Linked DNA regions of Homo sapiens: region 2 is linked to region 1. The links come from fine-mapping of genetic effects on gene expression. Tissue or cell type: whole blood. Region 1 holds a variant in brackets; the other region holds the start of a gene. All regions are shown on one strand. Distances are from middle to middle.

Region 1 (2,768 bases):
ACAGACTGCTAAGAGTAAATCACACTGAAAGTGAGCAATATACTGTGATAACCAGAGCTTTACTGCTTTGTCATGGTGAGATATTAAAACAGAGTTGCTATAATACATTTTGACAAATCAGCTAAGGCTGTAGCTAATTTGAAGGTACCATATACTTTTCTAATTTAGATAATCAAAGTGGACCCAAAAAATAATAAACTGAGTTTTAAAATCTCTTACCTATAATATTTAGAATTTATACAATTATTTTATTATTTTTTCCAGATTTGCTAAATATGCATTCCTTTTAGGAAGTACTCTCCATGCACGTGAATTTTCATTGTAAATAAACTTTGTAGGGCAACATATTTTCTTGATGTAAATTGACTGTGGGAAAAGTAAATAATGTGTGCCTACCACCTCAATCAGAAAAAACAAAATCATAACCAATGATTTTTATATAGACAAACTTCAAGCCATCAAAAGAAACCATTATGTGTCTGCTGCTAAATTCAAGGTTTACAAGGAAGCAAAATTTTGCCTCTTCTCACTTTTAATGTCTTAGGAAAACAGCTCTCTACAAGTTTGGGTGGAGATAGCTGTCTTCCACTCATTTTTTCCAAAGGATATGCAAAACCTGAATATTATGAAAAATAACAGATTAACACATGATACTCTAACTTTAAAGATGCTATCATATATTTGAATTTACAGAGAGTCATCAGAAAGGAATTTCCTCTTTCTCCCAATATACACCTACTTCTTTTTCTATTAATCTGTACTTTTGACAACTACCTGTCTGTATGCAATACATAAACACACACACGGTCATCCACAACAGTTGTAAACACACATGCATATATAGTCATGCAATTGAAGTTTTTTTCTCAGCGATCCATACACAAAGTAAAGTAGTAAATACACTGTAAACATAATCATTCTTCTCTTTTTCATGATTGTAACTGGCTCTAACTTTCCAAATTCCATATTTAAAAATTGTTAAATATAAGTAGAATAAACCCAGAATATGATCCTCATTTCAAAGTGGAGGGCTTAATAGGATGACCCAATGTATTTATTACAGTCACTATTGCTTGAGAAATGTACTTTTAAAATAAAATCCATGGCAAGAAAAATGGTAGATCTTTGTGTTATAGTTAATTATAGAAATTATTTTTCCAGCACAACTGTTCACATTCACCAATTTAATCTGCTTTGAGATGCCCTTGAGAAATTCAGATTGATTCAGTCTCATAAAATTTTAGGGTAATATATCATTGGTTGTTCTGTTTTGATTTTGCTCAGTTGGCATGCAGTAAAGCATTGATTTCAACTTACTTGTGAATAAAATTAAAAAGTCGGTTAGGCATCACTTTGTTTTGATTTGAACTATGCTGCTACCTGGTTTTAATTGTTCAACTACCTTTCTGTTCAGTAGTGATGTGTGTATTTGTGGCTCCTGTCCATTCAGTAGATCCCTCTGAAGGACCCTCTTTTATTGACAGCACATTTTGCTCTATGAAACATACTCTATTTCTGTGCCAAAAGATCTATTTGAAACAGAGCCAGTGTCTCATTCCAGGAAGAGGAAAGGATATCAAGAGTTTCCATGGCAATCAGTTGA[C/T]GGAACTAAATTAAGCAGGAAACCTCTTCAGAATGCAAAGTAGTCTTGCAAAACAAAGTGGTTTGAAATATTCAGGAAGTGTGTCACAGCACAACGAAAGAAATGGAGATATGAATACCTCCATAATGTAAACTCCCTAACTGTAAAATAAACAATTAAATGCTAGCTTTTGTCCTACAAAAATAAACCCTCAAACAACTGTCATTTCTAATCAAATCTTTTGTTCCAGTTAGTTTTGGTTTTTTTTAGTTCTTATCTCTTATGATCAACATCATGTAAGAATATAACTACAATTGTTTATGTAGGTAGGAAAAATAACTTTTTTATGTTACTGCTGTTAAATTTATTTTGTATGAAATTGTGCAAATTTCATAGCTAGTTCTTTAACAGTGAAATCAGAAGGAATGACCAAAATTTATTTTAGTGAAAAAAAAAATGAAGAAACAGATTCCTTAGTTTAGAGAAAGGAATTGCTTTTAAAAATGGGATTCTTCATGGTAATTTGGATTATTGATAGTTTTAAAAATATCATTCTACTTCCTGGAGTGGAATTAGAAGGAATGAGTCTTGAAATTCCAGGAAATAGAAGAATTAGAATGAACCAGAGGTTTCTTATCTTCTGGTCAATTGCCAAATCGTTATAATAGTTTGCTTGGAAATACGGCTTCAACCTGTATCAGTAACTATTACCAGAAGTCCTTCAGACCACCTAAATGCTTTCCAAATGCTTTCCTCTTCTCTTTAAGGAAAGAGTTCTTGGAGCAAACGTTTCTAAAGCACACGGATTCACAATAAAAAATATTTAAACAATTCCTAAAACCTATTAACCACTCGTTATCCCAGCTTTTTAAGTTAAATCACTGTATTTGTTTGAAGTAAAATTATAGGGTCTCCTTTGAAGATGAACACATAAGAATATACATCTTAGAAGAGGAAGGTCTTATGAATTTTAATCTCAAATATTCTGGCCTCAATTTCAACGTGAACTTTAAAGTGTGATCTAAATGCTTACTGTGTGTAATATAAACATTAAGAGGCACATTTTGATGTCACCTGCGTGATAAAACTTTCCTGGCTTCATTGTGCTAAACTTTTCTCAAATTTTCTGGACCAGAAACATAGTCCAAACATAGCACATCATCATATCACACAGACAAACACACAC
Region 2 (2,500 bases), 260 kb before region 1:
CAAATCCTCCACCGTATCCTGTCCGTTGCATCCACTCCCACCTGCTACCACTTCTATCCACTTTACCGATATGGTCACGATGAGCGCTACAAAATTGCTGCCAAATAAGTAAATATGAGCGCAACACAAAGCCAGTTGGTGGGGACCAAAAAGTACCTTTAGAGGCACTCAGCCCCTTCGTAAAAGTCAGCATGTGTTTAGCTCTTTAAAACATCTCGCCTTACCAAACTCTACGAAGAATGAGAATTAAGACCGTCCTCTAACCTAACCCATGCGGATATGAAAAGTGGAAGGAGATTTCAAGACAGGTTTATACTAACTAATCCATTAGCCCAAGGCAGATCAGAGCTGTCAACAAATCAGGACCAAATCAGAAAGAACAAAGTTGCAAATGTGAGAGGGTGTGTATGCACTGGTGCGGGGGAAGAGGATGGGTGGGAGGACAATTTTTAAAATGCAATCATTGAAAACGGGAGAATCCAAGTCCTCTGTCTCCCAGCCGGCCTCCAAACCTCGATTCCACGGGCAGTGCCGGGAATGGACCTAATCCCAGGATCGCAGGGATTTGGGGGCGGGGTGGGGCTGCCTCCCGCACCCGCGTGCCTGAGCGCCCAGCCCCCGCGATGAGGACGCGCTCGGGACACTCACGTTTTCTGCACCGGCTTCCGCCGCTTGCGACTGGCGTAGGTGATGTTGGCGCTGCTGCTGTTCATGGTGCCCAGCCGACGGCGGCGGCTACTCCCCGGGCACTGGCGGCCGGGTCCCCGGAACCCGGTGTAGGCTGGGACCACTGCGGCGGCCGGCGCCGGGTTCCGCGAAGCCGCGCCCGCTCCACCTGCGTCCTCTCGGGACAGTGGCGTGGGCGCCGCGCCTCAACGCCTCGGCTCACGCAGGCTTCCGCAGCCCGCGCCAGTACAGGTGAGCTGCCTGGGCCTGGCGCAGTGAGGGTGGGCGAGGGGCGGAGACCCGCGAGCAAGGCGGCGCAGGTGCCGTCTACACCGGCGGAGGCGGCGCGGCAATGCCCGCAGGTGAGGCGGCCCGGGCGGAGGAGGAGCCTGGGCCGTCTATTTAGAATCCTGGCCTGGGTCGCTCACGGTGGCGCCGCGCCCCGTGACCGTCGCCGCGGCCCCTTGGGTGAGGGAGGTGCCGCCGCGCTGCTCCCGGGACTTCCTAAATCCAGGGTGCTTCCCGCCTGCGGAGCTCGGGCGCGGGCCACCAGTCCCGGCTGCTCCCAGCTTCCGTTCGGCTACACGGCTGCCCCTGTTCTGAGCTGGCGGTCCGGGGCACGCTCTCGGAACAGAGCGTCGACGGGACTCCCCAGCCACTGCCTCCCGCCGCCGCGCGCACCGGCTGAATAGCAGGAGCACCCCCGACCCCTCACCGGCCCCGCCCCGCCCAGATCCCGCGTAGCCCCGCCCCGTCCTGCTTGCCCCCGCCCATCTGGATTCCATTCCGTCTTCCTTGAGGGCCCCACCCTCATCCCGGCACGTGATGACGTAGGACGTAAGGACGCCCCCCCCCGCCGGTAGCCATCTTCGTGCATAGGCAAACTTATTGTAGCTAGACTGTACAAAGTATATCAAGATATGCCAAATATTGAGCTTAACTTCACCTGTTTGAGAGACGGTGGGTCAGCTAACTTGTGGCTAAGAATTACAATTAACTGGTAGACAACTGGTAGACAACCAATGGGACTGTATATTTTCCTAGTTGGGAAGGCTTCAGAAGGCCAGATTTGAGTTGAGACTTGAAGGCTAGGAGTTTCCTTGACCTTTTTTGGTGTGCGGGGGAAGTCTTTACAATAGACAGGAATATAGATAATAAGGGGACTATTATGTATTGTGTCATGGAGGACCATGTGGAAAAATATTGGGAGTAATTAACAATATTGAATACTGTTGAGAAATTCAAATTAGTTGAGAACTGAAAATGTCATTCTTGTTTTCTCAATGTGTAGTCACTGATGACTTTCGTGAATGCAGTGTTGGGGTAATGGGCCTGCAAATAACATTGAAGTGGGTACAGGATTGAGCTGAAGATAACAAAATGGCATCCTCAAGCAGGCAATTTTTCTTCCAAGTTTAGCTGTGGATGAGAGACACATCAGATTGTATGTAGGGGGAGTGAAGGGTTAAATGAGGGTTTTCTAGTTTTGGTTTAGTTCTTTAATGGGCGATACTGAGCGGCTTAGAGGGGGTAGAGATAAACTATGTAGGGAACCTGAGGGAAGAGTGAAGGAATGATAGATATTAAGATACCGAAAGCAGGAGGGAATGAGTGCCAAAGCATAAATGGGAGATTAGGACTAATAGATTAGATACTAACAGAAACAGCACTTACAGTGCTTTGCTATTCAGAGTACTCCACAGCTTCTTTTGAGAGTTACAGGAAATGCAGACTCTTTGGGTGTCCTTATTAAATCAGAACCCGAAGTTCACAGGAACTCCCAGGTGATTCAAATGTACATAAAGTTGGAGGAGCAGTTCTCTACCATAGCTGG

What was found. PIP is the estimated chance that this variant, and not a neighbour inherited with it, causes the effect.
Region 2: AHR starts here. The variant in region 1 is fine-mapped to the expression of AHR in whole blood (TOPMed, PIP above 0.99). The same link has a PIP of 0.9 or more in blood mononuclear cells.

The regions. Positions count from the first base shown.
Region 1 is chr7:17,040,369-17,043,136 of GRCh38, reverse strand. LOC124901595 (a long non-coding RNA gene) reads left to right here. Exons shown (of 4, transcript XR_007060239.1): 1 at 1-2,768. Among named protein-coding and RNA genes, the nearest start is that of AGR3, 160 kb to the right of the region's middle. The variant C/T (reference allele first, on the strand shown) is at 1,604.
Region 2 is chr7:17,297,478-17,299,977 of GRCh38, reverse strand. It overlaps AHR (aryl hydrocarbon receptor), which reads right to left and starts at 1,326. Exons shown (of 11, transcript NM_001621.5): 1 at 649-1,326. The coding sequence starts at 713. It overlaps LOC101927609 (a long non-coding RNA gene), which reads left to right and starts at 658. Exons shown (of 12, transcript XR_007060234.1): 1 at 658-918. RefSeq lists silencers at 652-701, 742-851, 902-1,051.